Linked DNA regions of Homo sapiens. The protein of the gene in region 3 interacts with the protein of the main gene of each other region in a pairwise test. Each region holds a gene or a part of one and is shown on either strand. Other genes may lie near its edges.

The links. Proteins that work in one complex are often made in the same cells at the same time.
Region 1: the proteins of PDPK1 (region 3) and BLMH interact in a two-hybrid assay, tested with the Homo sapiens proteins (one large-scale study listed by BioGRID and IntAct).
Region 2: the proteins of PDPK1 (region 3) and SBF1 interact in a two-hybrid assay, tested with the Homo sapiens proteins (one large-scale study listed by BioGRID and IntAct).
Region 4: the proteins of PDPK1 (region 3) and CDAN1 interact in a two-hybrid assay, tested with the Homo sapiens proteins (one large-scale study listed by IntAct).

What each region holds. Positions count from the first base shown.
Region 1 is NC_000017.11:30,260,945-30,264,444, forward strand, and holds part of BLMH (bleomycin hydrolase), read right to left. Parts: intron 1-3,500. UniProt on the Homo sapiens protein: The normal physiological role of BLM hydrolase is unknown, but it catalyzes the inactivation of the antitumor drug BLM (a glycopeptide) by hydrolyzing the carboxamide bond of its B-aminoalaninamide moiety thus protecting normal and malignant cells from BLM toxicity.
Region 2 is NC_000022.11:50,451,036-50,454,535, forward strand, and holds part of SBF1 (myotubularin-related protein 5), read right to left. Parts: coding exon 3,477-3,500; intron 1-3,476. UniProt on the Homo sapiens protein: Acts as an adapter for the phosphatase MTMR2 to regulate MTMR2 catalytic activity and subcellular location. Promotes the exchange of GDP to GTP, converting inactive GDP-bound Rab proteins into their active GTP-bound form.
Region 3 is NC_000016.10:2,555,021-2,558,520, reverse strand, and holds part of PDPK1 (3-phosphoinositide-dependent protein kinase 1), read right to left. Parts: intron 819-3,500; coding exon 558-818; intron 542-557; exon of another isoform or gene 1-541. UniProt on the Homo sapiens protein: Serine/threonine kinase which acts as a master kinase, phosphorylating and activating a subgroup of the AGC family of protein kinases.
Region 4 is NC_000015.10:42,723,044-42,727,128, forward strand, and holds the end of CDAN1 (codanin-1), read right to left. Parts: intron 3,375-4,085; coding exon 3,267-3,374; intron 3,118-3,266; coding exon 3,054-3,117; intron 2,628-3,053; coding exon 2,446-2,627; intron 2,209-2,445; coding exon 2,101-2,208; intron 1,574-2,100; coding exon 1,448-1,573; 3' UTR 501-1,447; downstream 1-500. UniProt on the Homo sapiens protein: May act as a negative regulator of ASF1 in chromatin assembly.

The DNA.
Region 1 (3,500 bases), on a different chromosome or scaffold from region 3:
TGGTAGCAGCACTTTTCCCAAGCCTGGAGAGACATGAAACCCTCTGAGGTGACAAAACAAATTTGCAACTTGCCCCTTTCTCGGAAATCAGAAACCTGTGCTTTTAAGTTCTACAATTCACTCTTGTTTCAGCAAGTCTGGCCCAACATTGCCTAGTTTCCATTATTGTACTAGAGATCCAGAACTGAACCTCAAACAGACCTGCAAATAACTGATTGTCTTTTGTAAGTAATACATAGGGAATTTTAGGGAAGCTGTCTGTGTCAAATTAAGAGATTTGAATTCCAATTCTATCTCTGATTCTGTGCAACCCAAACAAGACACAACTGTCAGTAAGTTTTAGTTTCTTCACATAAAACCTGGGTATAATCACCCATGTTCACATCCTGAGTTACTCTACTCTGATGTCATGAGGAGAAATAAATACAAATACATTAGTGAACTTTGAATTCTCACGAAGCAAGATGCCCTGTAGCTTTATGTCCTGAGTACCTCCAACAGAAATATGGGCTGTTCATAACTCCTTAGATTTATATAACAATATACAGTTTGAAAAATGCCTGCATACATTATTTCATTTGATGGCTACATACAAACTGTAGGAGCTCATAAAGAAACAAATTGTCCATGTTATTGACATAGAAATGTGACACTACAATGAGTTAAATTACTGCCCAGCATCTAAAATCAAGAATTAATTATTAGTAACTGTCTCTCCACAACTCACCTGGTTCTACAACATAGCATTTTATGAAGAATATGTTGATTTTTGTGCCTAGCTTTGAATATACCATCTCCAAAATCACTTGTGGCAGTTGGGCTGGTGAGACAATTAAAGGTCATAATGTTGGTTTTTAGGAAGCAGCAGAAATCTACATATAGTCTGAATTGATAACATGTTTCTTTCTAATCTCTAACATGCCAAAGTATCTTTAACTGAAACCATTTAGAGGCTCCTTTCTAGAAGGAAGTCTGAAAATTTTACTAAAATGAAAGAAATCAGGAACAGAGAGGCTCACTTGTAAGAAAAGATTAAAAATGTGGGTTAAAAACAATTTCAAATGTTCATGTATCTGAAAGGAACAAAAGCAATGTGAAAAATGGAAAACTCATCTTGGTTCAAAATGAAAACCAGGAGAGACAAAATTTTTAAAAGGTAAGTATTTTCCTTCAGTGAACATTGCAGAATTAGAAAATATCCTCCATATCTTCACTTAAAAGTTGTTACTTATCATATTGAGAAACTGGACCAAATAAGCATTAAGAACTATATTATGATAATTCCACATTTAGAGTTCTGCTGTGTCAGGCTCTAGAAATGGAATACAATCTCATAACTAAGTGAACCAATCACAAAGAAGTAAAGTTTCATAGTAAGACTGGTTCATTAGAAAGACCATCTAGGAATTTAATTTATTGACTATCAAATACACTATTATTTGCATGACAGAATATTGATAACTACTGAAGGTGGGTGACAGGCATATGCAGGGTTCTTTAATACAATCCTGTTTACTTTATATATGTTTAAAATTGTCCAAGATAAAAAGTTAAGAACTAAATAACCTTGGCCGGGCACGGTGGCTCACGCCTGTAACCCAGCACTTTGGGAGGCCGAGGTGGGAGGATCACAAGGTCAGGAGATCGAGACCATCCTGGCTAACACAGTGAAACTCTGTCTCTACTAAAAAATACAAAAAATTAGCCAGGCGTGGTGGGGAGCACCTGTAGTCCCAGCTACTTGGGAGGCTGAGGCAGGAGAATGGCGTGAACCTGGGAGGCGAAGCTTGCAGTGAGCTGAGATCGCGCCACCGCACTCCAGCCTGGGCAACAGAGCAAGACTCCGTCTCAAAAAAGCAAAAACAAAACAAAACAAAAAAACAACTAAATAACCTTATTATAAAGCAGCATGGACAAAATTCAGGGAAATTTTGGGTGGCTGCATAGTTTCTGACTTGCCTAAGTCACAATGTGCTAACATGTGACAAACCCTCACAGAATGCCCCAATCTCCACTCTTTACTCAGATTCCCAGCCACAAATGATGCTCTAGGGGCCTTTTCTCCCAATGTCAGACATTTACATAACATCTCCAGGTCCTTCATACAGTTTTATATCCCTTCATCCACTCTTTCTGGTCACCAATGACCATGAACTGACCTGTTATTTCTTGAGTGGACGACATGCTACTAGAACAGGGAAGGTGAGAGAAAGCACAGTTTAGTGGTTAAGAAAACTGGCTCTGGTGTCAGGCCATCTGGGTTATAATTCTGGCTCTATCATTTACTAGCTAGGGGATCTGCAGGTCACTTTGGCTTAGAGATTAGGCTCTTCTCAGATGAATTTCTGACTAATAACGAGAGGAATCAAAGGTGACTTCCTTGATTTTAAATTCTTAAATATTTTATAAAATATTTTTATCAACTTTTCAAAATGAAAGATAATATATCAAATCCCGAAGTCTGTTCCCTCACCTAATTGTGAAATTCATTTCTGATATGATCCATTAACAAGGTACAAAATGGATAGTCAAGTATTTTAAGAAGCAGGGGAGAAAAGAAACCCAGGTTGGTATTACATGTTAGATATGCATCCAATTTTCAGTACAACTGACTATGAATACTAGAATTCATCAACTTGAAGTAATCCAACTGGTACAGTAAAGCAAAAACTGATTTCTCCTTTTATGTCCTCCTGCTCAGAAGAAACCTTCTGTCCATTTTTGGAATAGTCAGGTTATGTGTTACAAAAGAGTTTCTGGGCAGGAGAGCCATGAACATGACCAATGGGGAGAACCAAAGCCAGGGCTGGGCAAAGGGGAAAGGCAGCTTGCCCAGGTATCTTTGCTCTGTTTATCTCCAGCATGTATTATCAACACTGCTTTTTCAGAAACATCAATCTTAACAGTCAGAAATCCCAAAGAGAATAGCAACAAACTGTTAACAATGTTATCTACAGAAACAAAATCCCAGCAATGCTTCTTAAGGTTGTCATATCTCCCAAGAGAGCATAAACAGAGGTCCTACCTCAGACCTGCCAGCCAATGTCCACTAGGATGACAGACAAGAAGGCCCTGCTGGGATAAACACATATTGCCAACATAATAACATACTATGCGCTCTCCTGAGGTCAGGCCAAGTGTGCCAATTAAATTAGATCATGTTTTCTTTCCTTCCTTCCTGTTAAGTTAGAAAGAACATTACCAAGAAACACATGAGAATAATTTATTTTGGCTTGAATGAACGACTCCCTACCCCCACTTCAGTTCTATTTCTTATCTTTTGGCTCTCTACTGAAATGCTTTGCTGTGTATAGTCACAGGCATTTCAGTTATTTGAGAACAACAAAAAAGTTAATCTTTACTAGATAGCTGCAGATTTCACTAAGAAGGATTACAGGAGAGTTACAGGGATAGCAAGATCCCATATTTTACAGTTCTCTAAGCATAATAATGAAATGAGTAAGTTAGCAAAAGCAAAACTTTTATTGAGTAAAAGTAAA
Region 2 (3,500 bases), on a different chromosome or scaffold from region 3:
TTCATTAGATGGGGCCGGGTGTGGTGGCTCATGCCTGTAATCCCAGCACTTTAGGAGGCCAAGGTGAGAGGACTGCTTGAGCCCAGGAGTTTGAGACCTGCCTGGGTGACATAGGGAGACCCCATCTCTACAAAAAAAAAAAAAAAAAAAAAAAAAAAGTAGCCGGCACGTGGCCCACGCCAGTAGTCTTGGCAACTCAAGAGGCTGAATGAAGCAGGATGATTGTTTGAGCCTGGGAGGTTCGGGCTGCAGTGAGCCATGACTGTGCCACTGCACTCCAGCCTGGGCAACAGAGCAAGACCCTGTCTCAAGAAATTAAAAAAAAATTCATTTGATGGGCTTCAGTATATTAAAAACAAGAAAGAAAAGAGTAGTGAACTTGAAGACAAGCCAACAGAAATCATCCAAAATGAATTGCAAAGATAAAGACTGAGAAAAAACAAACAGAGCTTCAGCAACGTATGGGACAATAAAGTTCCAGAAGGAAAGGGAGAGATCATGCAGAAAAAGTAATTTATAGAAGCAATGGCTTGAAATGTATTAAATTTGACAAAAATGATCATCCCACAGACCCAGAAGTTTAAAGAGCCCCAAGCAGGACGAAAGCAAAAACCACAATGGTCAAATTGCTGAAGCCAAAATTAAATGCAAAATCTTAAGGCAGAGAATCAAAGGGTGCCATTATACACAGTTTATAAGGATAAGAATCAACACCAACTTCTAAGCAGAAACAATACAGGCCAGAAAACAAAGTAATATCTTTTTTTTTTTTTTTTTTGAGGCAGAGTCTCACTCATGTCGCCCAGGCTGCAGTGCAGTGGCGCGATCTCAGCTCAGTGCAGCCTCCACCTCCCGGGTTGAAGCGATTCTCCTGCCTCAGCCTCCTGAGTAGCTGGGATTACAGGCACCCGCCACCATGCTCAGCTCATTTTTATATTTTAGTAGAGACGGGGTTTCACCATATTTGCCAGGCTGGTCTCGAACTCCTGACCTCAGGTTATCCACCTGCCTCAGCCTCCCAAAGTGCTGGGATGACAGGCGTGAGCCGCTGCGCCCAGCCTAGTAATGAGATCTTTTAAAGTGACATCAGTTTAACTGCTGAATTAAAAAAAAAAAAAAAAAAAAGAAGCAGCTGTCAACCTAGAAATGCATATCCAGAGAAAATGCCCTTTGCAAAATAAAGGCACCAAGATGTTTTCAGATAAACAAAAGCTGAGGGGATTTGTGACTGGCAGCTCTGCATTACAAGAAATATTAAAAATTCTTCAGGCTGAAGAGAAATAATAACCAGACCAGATTATACTGAAAGAATGAAGAATGTTATAAATGGCAAAAATAGAAGACTTTTTCCTTCTTTCTTAATTTCCTTAAAACAAAGTTGACTATTTAAAACAAAAACAGGGCCGGGCACGGTGGCTCACGCCTGTAATCCCAGCACTTTGCAAGGCCAAGGCGGGCGGATCACCTGAGGTCAGGAGTTTGAGACTAGCCTGGCCAACACAGTGAAACCCCGTCTCTACTAAAAATACAAAAAAAATTTAGCCGGGCATGATGGTGGGTGCCTCTAATCCCAGCTACTTGGGAGGCTGAGACAGGAGAATCACCTGAACTCAGAGGCAGAGGTTGCAGTGAACCGAGATCGCACCACCGCTCTCCAGCCTGGGTGACTGAGGGAGACTCCATCTCTCAAAAAAAAAAAAAAAAAAAAAAAAAAAACCATACTGGGTGTTTATGTCATACGTAAAAATAAAATGTGTGACAGTAACAGGACAGGAAAGGCATGAATGGACACACACTGCCGTAAGGCTCTTCTGGTGTCAACAGGGTGATGTAATTTCAAGTCAGATGATTATAGCCCCCAGCAACCCCTGAAACACAACACAGAGATGTACAGCTCAACTCACAGTAGACAGAATACTAAAAACACTTGTTTTTTAAAAAAAGAAAAGAAAGAAAGGAAAAAAAATCAAAGGGACAAAGAGAAAACAAAGAGCAAGATGACAGACTTAAACCCAGCCACATCAATAGTAACAGTAAATTAAAATGGGCTAAAAATTCCAATTAAAAAAACCCATTAGACTGGATAACAAGAAGACCCAACTACATCTACATTCTGTGTACAAGAAACTCACCTTAAACATAAACACACAGACCAGTAAAAAATACAAGAAAACAACAGAGCAAGCTGACACTGGTCATGACAAAGCTGAGTGACTCTGTTAGCACCAATGAGACCGCGTCAACTTTAAGACAATGAGCATCGCTAGAGAGAAAAAGGGACTGCTGTCTGTGCTTTGTGGGTCACCTCCATCACAAACCATGACTCCCGTACTCCCCCAAACCCTGTGCCCCATGCTAAGTCACTGAAATAAATGACTCATTTAAGCCTCACAACTTCCCTGTAAGGCAGGAATCAGCATTTCCACTTTCTGCACAAGGAACCAGAAGCTCTAAGATGCTTAGATAACTAGGCCAGGCACGGTGGCTCACGCCTGTAATCCCAGCACTTTGGGAGGCCGAGGCAGGTGGATCACGAGGTCAGGAGATCGAGACCATCCTGGCTAACACGGTAAAACCCCGTCTCCACTAAAAATACAAAAAATTAGCTGGGCGTGGTGGTGGGCACCTGTAGTCCCAGCTACTCGAGAGGCTGAGGCAGGAGAATGGTGTGAACCCGGGAGACGGAGCTTGCAGTGAGCGGAGATCGCGCCACTACACTCCAGCCTGGGCGACAGAGCGAGACTCCATCTCAAAATAAAAAAAAAAAGATAACCTCTAAGGCCACACAGCCAACAGTGGGGAGCTGAGTGCAGGTCCCCCCGTGGCCTAGGTCCAAGGTCCACACTCCTCTGCCTGCTCAGTCCCACAGAGACTCCGGGATGGCCCCAAAAGGTAGCACCACGCGCAGGACACTGCCTCAGGCCTTACACACCAACCCAGCCACCACCCAATCGCAGTCTCCTTTCTCCCTCCCAGGCATCTCTGCCTTGTTCAGTCCAGGCCCACCAGGGATGGCACAGTGAGGGGTAAGAGAGGCCTCAATGTCAACCCCAAGCTCTCAGGGCAAGAACCCAGAGCTGCTCACGTTAGGTGGGGCAGGCGGTCTGGCAGAGGGAGTAAAACACTGTCGTCTCTAAGGGCTGACTCCTCAACAGGTGCCTGAGCTGCTCAAAGCCAGGTCAGGGAAAACACACGTGCTCAGAGTGGAGGCTGTGTACTGAGACCTGAGGGTCTCTGATGACGGCCCTCCTGTCACTGTCTGGAAGCACCCACTGAGTGGTGCGGGGCCCTGGGGAGCCACAGCCACCCCAGGCCAGTAGGCAGTTCACATGGTGGGGAGACGGCAGGGCCACACCAACCCCCAGGGGTAACCGGACTTACGTGCATGTACGAGTGTACACACACACGCACGACCCTGGTGTCTGAGCGAGAGGAGGGGGGTGCCAGGCCAGACCCTGCTCTGGGATCACACGCACCTCCAGCAGGCGTGAGATGGCGTC
Region 3 (3,500 bases):
TGACTTGACAGTACTGCGACAATACTCCTGTTTGTGAAACTCGGAACACAAGACTCTGGAGGCTGTGTCTCCAGCAAATGTCCAGAGCGTACTGTTTTATGTATTCAAAAAAACAAAACAGAGAAATAAGAAGAGGTCAATAAATGTCCCCAAAAACCCTGGAGAGATACTAACTTTCAATCTAAGAAAAAGAACAGCTTCCCAGGGCCCTGCCAGTGAGACACAAGGACACAGAATGTAACTTGCTGATGCCAGGTTAAAATGAAATTAACTACATCAGAAAAAACCTCCGCAGACCATCAAGAGATGTGTCTAACGTTCTCATCTACAAAACCAGGTTAAATATTTAGCCACACTCATCACGTCATCTGCTTGGGGGGTACCCAGCCCCCAAAGACTCAAGTGGCCTTCACAACAGGTGACACCCCTCAAGGGGCCTGAGACCTCCTGCCTGGAAGGACACCAGCCTTGCTTGGAGTCTCCGGCAAGCCCCGAGGAAGGTGAGCCTCCCCAAGGAAATCACGTACGTTTGACACACAGCAGCAGCAAATACTCACCGTGGAAAAAGAGCCTTCCCCAAGGATTTTCCCAAACTTGAAGTCCTCAGGCCGCTTCTTCCGAGGCTGCGGCGGAGGCTGGGCATGCTGCAGGGAGCCGGCGCCGGGCCGAGGCTCGGCTGCAGTGCCGTCCATGGCGGGGCCCTGCCTGCTGCCACCAGGAATGCCAGGGGGCGTGCTGGACTCAGTCTGGGTCCTCACCATTGATGGGGATGGGCAGGAACATAACACCACGCTGGACTGGATGGGCACGGCGTCATACTAGGCGACAAAGAGGAAAAGGAAGTAAGGCTCAAGGCAGCTGCCTTGCTCTCAATGCACGGACTAAGGTTTAAGGACCTCATTTCAACGCTCAAAAACAAACCCCAAGCACAGGGCAGGCCAGCTGAGCCCCGCGGTCTGCTGTGAGCTGCCGGCCTCCTCTCCTGAGTCCTGCCCGTGCCATGGCTCCCCGCTAATCCACCAGGCAGCGCCTCGCCCTCCTCCTGTCCCTCGCGCTGCCTGAGCCTCCAGCCAACTCATCCCAAGGCCAAGGTAACCTGAGCAGAGATAGCACGGCACATCTTTAATTGTGGGGGGGATGGAGAGATAAGAGTGATGATCGCATGTGTTTACAATACACAGAGACGCCCAGTGCTGGCAAGACTATAATAAAGCGAGCGCACTCACACCACTGCGGCTGGCACCAAAAACCGGGATTGCAGTGGAAATGTTTTTGGAAAGCAGTTTGGCAACTGTCAACAAAGCGACTACAGAACAGTTGTCAATGAGACACAGAAATACGAAGGAGAGGAGGGAGGGCAGAAACCCAGTTAACAATGTAAGCGGGCACGGAGGGAAGATCAGCGTGCAAAGCTAGGTCGGCAAGACGTGCAAGGTGCACCCACAGCCATAACAATCCCTCCCCAGACCCCAACGTGTCCTCACGGTGGTGGCAGTGGCCCCCCGCACTACAGAAGAACAATGCGAGGCGAGCTCAGGCGCGCTGATGGTGGTTTCCGATACAACTCCCCACTCAAAGAACCCCGGAGAGCTCTTGATTCCATCTCTCAGTAGGGTCCTGAAGTCCATGCTGTCTGAAGACACAGGGTCTCCCCCTGCGTCTGTGCCAGGACAGAGGGACTGCCACCAGCCAAGCTGCAATCCTTTTAAACGCTAAAAACGGCCGGGCTTGGTGGCTCATGCCTGTAGTCCCAGCAGTTTGGGTGGATGAGGCGGGTGGATCCCCTGCGGTCGGGAGTTCAAGATCAGCCTGACCAACACGAATAAACCCCTTCTCTACTAAAAATACAAAATTAGGCCGGGCACAGTGGCTCAGGCCTGTAATCCCAGCACTTTGGGAGGCAGAGGCGGGAGGATCACCTGAGGTCAGGAGTTCGAGACCAGCCTGACCACATGGAGAAATCCCGTCTCTACTAAAAATACAAAAAAACTAGCCGGGCTTGTTGGCGCATGCCTGTAATGCCAGCTACTTGGGAGGCTGAGGCAGGAGAATCGCTTCAACCTGCAAGGCAGAGGTTGCAGTGAGCTGATAGCATGCCATTGCACTCCAGCCTAGGCAACAAGAGTGAAATTTCGTCTCAAAAAAAAAAAAAAAAAAAAAAAATAGGCCGGGCGCAGAGGCCAAAGTGGGTGGATCACTTCAGCCCATGAGTTCAAGACCAGCCTGGGCAAACACAGCAAAACCTCACCTCTACTAAAAATATAAAAATTAACCAGGTACGGTGGCATGTGCCTGTCGTCGCAGTTAATTGGGAGGCTGAGGTAGGAGGATTACCTAAGCCCGGGGAGGTCGAGGCTGCAATGAGCCAAGATCACATCACTGCACTCCAGCCTGGACGACAGAGGGAGATCCTGCCTCAAAAATAAAAAATAATAAGTAAATAAATAAAAAGAATATATTCACTATTTTGCTTATCAAAGTCTCTTAAAGGAGGTGACTTACCTACGCTATGGACCCAATTACTCAGCCAATAAGAGGACACGGTCCCTGCCCATAGAAAGCTGATGTCCAGCCTGACCTCAATACAAAACCATCCAGTTAAAGTGGTGGGGGTGGCTATGCAGAGACGGGCGGGTGCCGGGAGAGTCAAGGGCAGCCCCTTGGCTGGCCAGGGGCTCAGACAGACCAGCTGGGGAGATGCATCACTCGCCCAGGAAAACTGATGACAGCTTAGATGGCACTGCAAGAGCAGGGAGGATCACACTCATGTCCAGAAAGTGAAACATAAAACAGCTAAACATGTACCACACAGCTTTCATACAAAAATTTTATATACACAAATTTTGAAAAAATAGAGATGGGGTTTTGCTTGTTGTCCCGGCTGGTTTCGAACTCCTGAACTCAAGTGATCTGCCTGCCTCAGCTTCCCAAAGTGATGCAATTACAGGCATGTGCCACCATGCCTGGTGACTTTTTTTCTGTTTTGAGACGGGGTCTCACTCTGTCTCCCAGGCTGGAGTTCAGTGGCATGATCATAGCTCACTGCAGTCTCGACCTCCTAGGCTCAAGTGATCCTCCCACCTCAGCCTCCTGAGTAGTGGGACCACAGGTGTGCACCACCGTGTCCAGCTAATTTTTGTAGAGATGGGGTCTCATCATGCTGCCCAGGCTGGTCTCAAACTCCAGGGCTCGAGTGATCCGCCATCCTTGGCCTCCCAAAGTGCTGGATTACAGACCTGAGCCACCACACCAGGCTGCCCCACACATTGTAAAGTTTCGCTTCCCTCTAATGTCAGATTCCAAAGACAGCAGCCTTCATGAGTCAGAAAGAAACATCGGTCATTTTGAAATCAACATCCAACTGAAGTGTAGAAAGGCCTCTGGATTTTTGAAACGGCAACAACAGATGATGTAATACAAAGACGCCCCCACCCCACTGCTTTCCCACTGCATGCTTTACATGACATGGCACAGCTTCCACGCCAGCAGCTTCAATCATG
Region 4 (4,085 bases), on a different chromosome or scaffold from region 3:
ACTGTAACCTCTAACTCCTGGACTCAAGTAGTCCTCTCTCTCGGCTTCCCAAAGCACTGGGATTACAGGTGTGAACCTGTCAAAATCAGTGGCTCATTTATAGAGCTTGATACAGCTGTAATCGAGAAGCAATGCTTTTGCTCTGAGAAACTCCAAGCCAAATCAATCAAACAAACACCTTAGCCTTAACAAGCTTAACAAGAACACTGCCCCACCATGTGGTTCAGTAGGGAATATCTTGTGTGTGGAAACTACATTATCCTAACCCTTTCTCCCACAAATAAAGCGAGTTACACAGGAGAAGTCAGTACCACTGGCGATAAATTAAATTAATAGATATTGCCACCAGAGACTAGCCCTCTAGAGTGGAATATACAGGCATTTCTAAGAGCCAAGGTAGCTCACCTTGTAATGCACAGAGCAAAGCCACAATTACAGCGCTCCACCTACAGCCCACCCGAGACTGCAGCCTTCTAAAGGGAGAAGACAGGTGACAATGATTAGACATCAAGCCCTTGTTAAAGAAAACCAGTTTATTCTAAAAAGCTCTAAATGCCCTGTGCTTGGTCCCTGGTCAGGGAGAGGTCTCAAGAGGTTACTACCTGCACAGGGGCTGAAGGTACAGGGGGAAAGTCAGGTTTCAGTTGGTTGAGTCCTACCTTATCTGTTTGTTAGGCTTTTTCTAGAAAGTCTCGCTCTGTTACCCAGACTGGAGTGCAGTGGTGCGACCTCGGCTCACTGCAACCTCCACCTCCAGGTTCAAGCAGGTCTCCTGCCTCATCCTCCTGAGTAGCTGGGATTACAGGCACACACCACCATGCCCAGCTAATAATTTTTTTATTTTTAGTAGAGATGGGGTTTTGCCATGTTGGCCAGGCTGGTCTTGAATTCCTGACCTCAGGCAGTCCGCCGACCTCAGGCCTCTCAAAGTGCTGGGATTACAGGCATGAGCCACCAGACCCGGCCTGTGTTAGGCATTTATAAGGAGATGGCAGTCCAGCTCCTGGTGATAAGAAAATGTAGACTCCCAAGATTCATGTTTTAACTTTCTTCATAAGTTAAGCAGGAGTCATTTGCCTCTGTCATGAATTCCAAGACTACAAAGTTTTAAGAGATGCTGGGATAGCAAATGAGGCTTGAATTCTGTGTTGACAAGCCCACACACCTCATTTCATTTAGTATCCAAGAGATAAACAAACACCACCTCTTCTACTCCAGGACTGGCATCTCTGGACTTTTCTGCCATAATCCCAAATCAGGCCAACTCTCCTTCCTCTAGGATTCGCGTGGTGGGATGCCAGGCAGTGACACCCTTAGAGCAGGAAGTCTGACTGTAGACCCAGCTACACCCCAACCAGTGAGGGTCTGCATTGGGCACTTGGGCCTCCTCGTGAGGCGGGGGTCCAGGGTTCTGGTGCAATGCCCAAGGCAGGGCCACTTCTCAGCCCTAGCTCTGGGCCAGCACAGTGCCCCGGTTTGGCTGCACCAACTCACAGGCTCTTAGCTGGGGTTCTGGCAGGTGGGGCTCGGCTAGAAACAGATTAGACAGTGTTGCTAATTCTTCAGCAAAGTCCTGGAATACATAGAAAGATGAGGGAAAAGGCAGCATGTAATAATTCTCAATGGCTCATCCTTTGTCACTAAAGACCACAACCTGGCTGGCTATATTATTTTTTCTCAACTGCCCTCCACACTGAAATGGACATGAAACCTTGTCTGTTTGTTAGTACTCTGGGAGGCTGAAGTTATGGCAGGGAGCGAACTCTGATGGAGGCACAGGCTTGACCAGTTTTTGAGTACTACTGAGTGCATCTACTTCATCTTGAAATTATTATTCCCGTTAAAATCCAGGTTATTCTAATTTTAAAAACCCATATAATGGGCTGTGCTGCTTTCCAACTAACTGCCTGCCTTTCGTCCGTCTTCCCACTAACACAGTCCCTCATATAATAACTACTCAAATCGGGACAATTTCAGGGTGGCCCTGAAGACTCTTGACAAAAATCCACTTAGTTTGGCCCCATCACTTGCTTCCTTTCAGGACAGATGGGATATGTAACACCTGTTCTCTCTCCACCTAAAAGACAGGAGACTCCTTACCCCTGGCCACTGGGCCTGGTGGAGGCTGCCCAGGCAGGCCTCTATCTCCATCCGTCCCATCAGACCCTTCTCCACCAGCTCCCGTAGCAAGAATAGCAGCAAGTCCCACTGCAAAACACACCGAGGTCAGGGTTGCTAGGAGGACGACAGAGTGACCCTGATGACAGAGATTGAGATCTCAAAGGGCAGAGCTGCTGGGAAGAGACTTGAGATGGATAAATGGAGCCCATTTCTGTGTGGAACAGGAAGGGGAAATAAAGGATGCAGAGCAGCTCATAGTTTGGGGCAAGGGTGGTGGATGTTCAGAGTGTGACTGCAGAGGGCTTCTTGTTCCGTCTGACTCACCTCCCTTGGCCTTGTGTCTGCCAGAAGCCCCACATTTCTTGGGCTCAGCAGCAGCTGCAGCGGAACCGGCCCCTGAAAGTCTTCCTTCCACAAGGAAAGCAGCATGTGCAGAAGCCTTCGAGCCTGCCCTCTCTCCAGCCTGTACTGTGCCGGGGGCCCTAGGATAGGAATTTGATCTGCAACTGTGGAAAGAGGAAAGCCAAGCTTTAAAAGATGGGGGCAGGCCGGGTGCGGTGACTCACACCTATAATCCCAACACTTCGGGAGGCTGAGGTGGGCAGATCAGGGGTTCGAGACCAGTCTGGCCAACATAGTGAAACCCCATCTCTATTAAAAATACCAAAATTAGCCAGGCGTGGTGGAAGGCACCTGTAGTCCCAGCTACTTGGCCGAGGCAGAATTGCTTGAACCCGGGAGGCAGAGGTTGCAGTTAGCTAAGATCGTGCCACTGCACTCCAGCCTGGGCAACAGAACAAGATTCCGTCTCAAAAAAAAAAAAAAAAAAAAAAAAAGGGACAGAAGAGGGCTCTGTTTCTAATCTTGCTTGTACCCAACCCTGAGATTTGGGGGATCAGGCAAGAGAGGGATTTGATGGAAAGCAACCATACCGAGGAGGGAAGCTAACTCCACAGAGCACTTTGCCAGATGCTGCTCAGCAGGTGGGCACAGGAACTGCGGTTGGGGTGGGGGGGAAAGAGAGACCATAGGTATCACCATGCTTACTGCTGCGAGAACTGGCCCTGAGCCAGTGTGGCTCTGGTTATCAGGTCTCACACAAGGACACAGAAAAAAGCCCCCCGGTGGCAGATGCCACAGCTCACCTGGCGGCACCGCAGCGTCTGGCCCAGCTGGCCTAGGAGCTGTTCCAGATGCTCTGGGGAGACTCCCTCGTCAGGGTCCCGTGGCCCCACGGCCAAGGAGAGCACGTCCTGTGAAGAGCAGGGGGAGATATCACCTTGCGCTGGGGGCCAGGATGCCACAGAGAATTTGGCTTGGGACAGGGATCAGCCAGTGGAGAGAGGCAGAAGAATGGGCCCCGGGATATGGTGAGTAAAGCCAAGTTGCCCCTAGACCTGGGACTTGGGCAGGATAATACAGCCAGGGGAAGCAACCATGTGGACAACAAAAGAGGGAACAGATGGAGGTCAGCTGAGGGACAGTAGGCTGCCATAGCATGGGAAACGTCACTCAACTTGGGACCAAACTGTAGCTAACCAACTCCCATAGGGCATCTTATTCTTGAAGCATGTAAGGAAACCGGCCTATCAGATACCGTCTTAGTATCGTCTGTCTCTCAAGCCTCTCTGTTCATCTTCTCTGGAGAGCTGAGCTTTCAATACAGAAATCCTCTGCATATTGACAACCAGTATCAAATGGCCACTAAGCCTCTTCCTCTCCCTCCTACATAATCTCCATTTTTTAGTCATTGTACCTTATAGTCCCTATTCCAATCTCTATTCCTAGATCATTACCCTAGACCAGAACCAGACAGTAAATATTTTAGGCTTTGCAGGCCATAAAGTCTGTGTCCCAACTATGCAACTCTGCTGTTCAGTAGTTGCACAAAAGCAGCCATAGGCAGCTCGTACACAAATTAATATGGCTGCATTCCACTAAAACTTCACTCACAAAACAAGGGG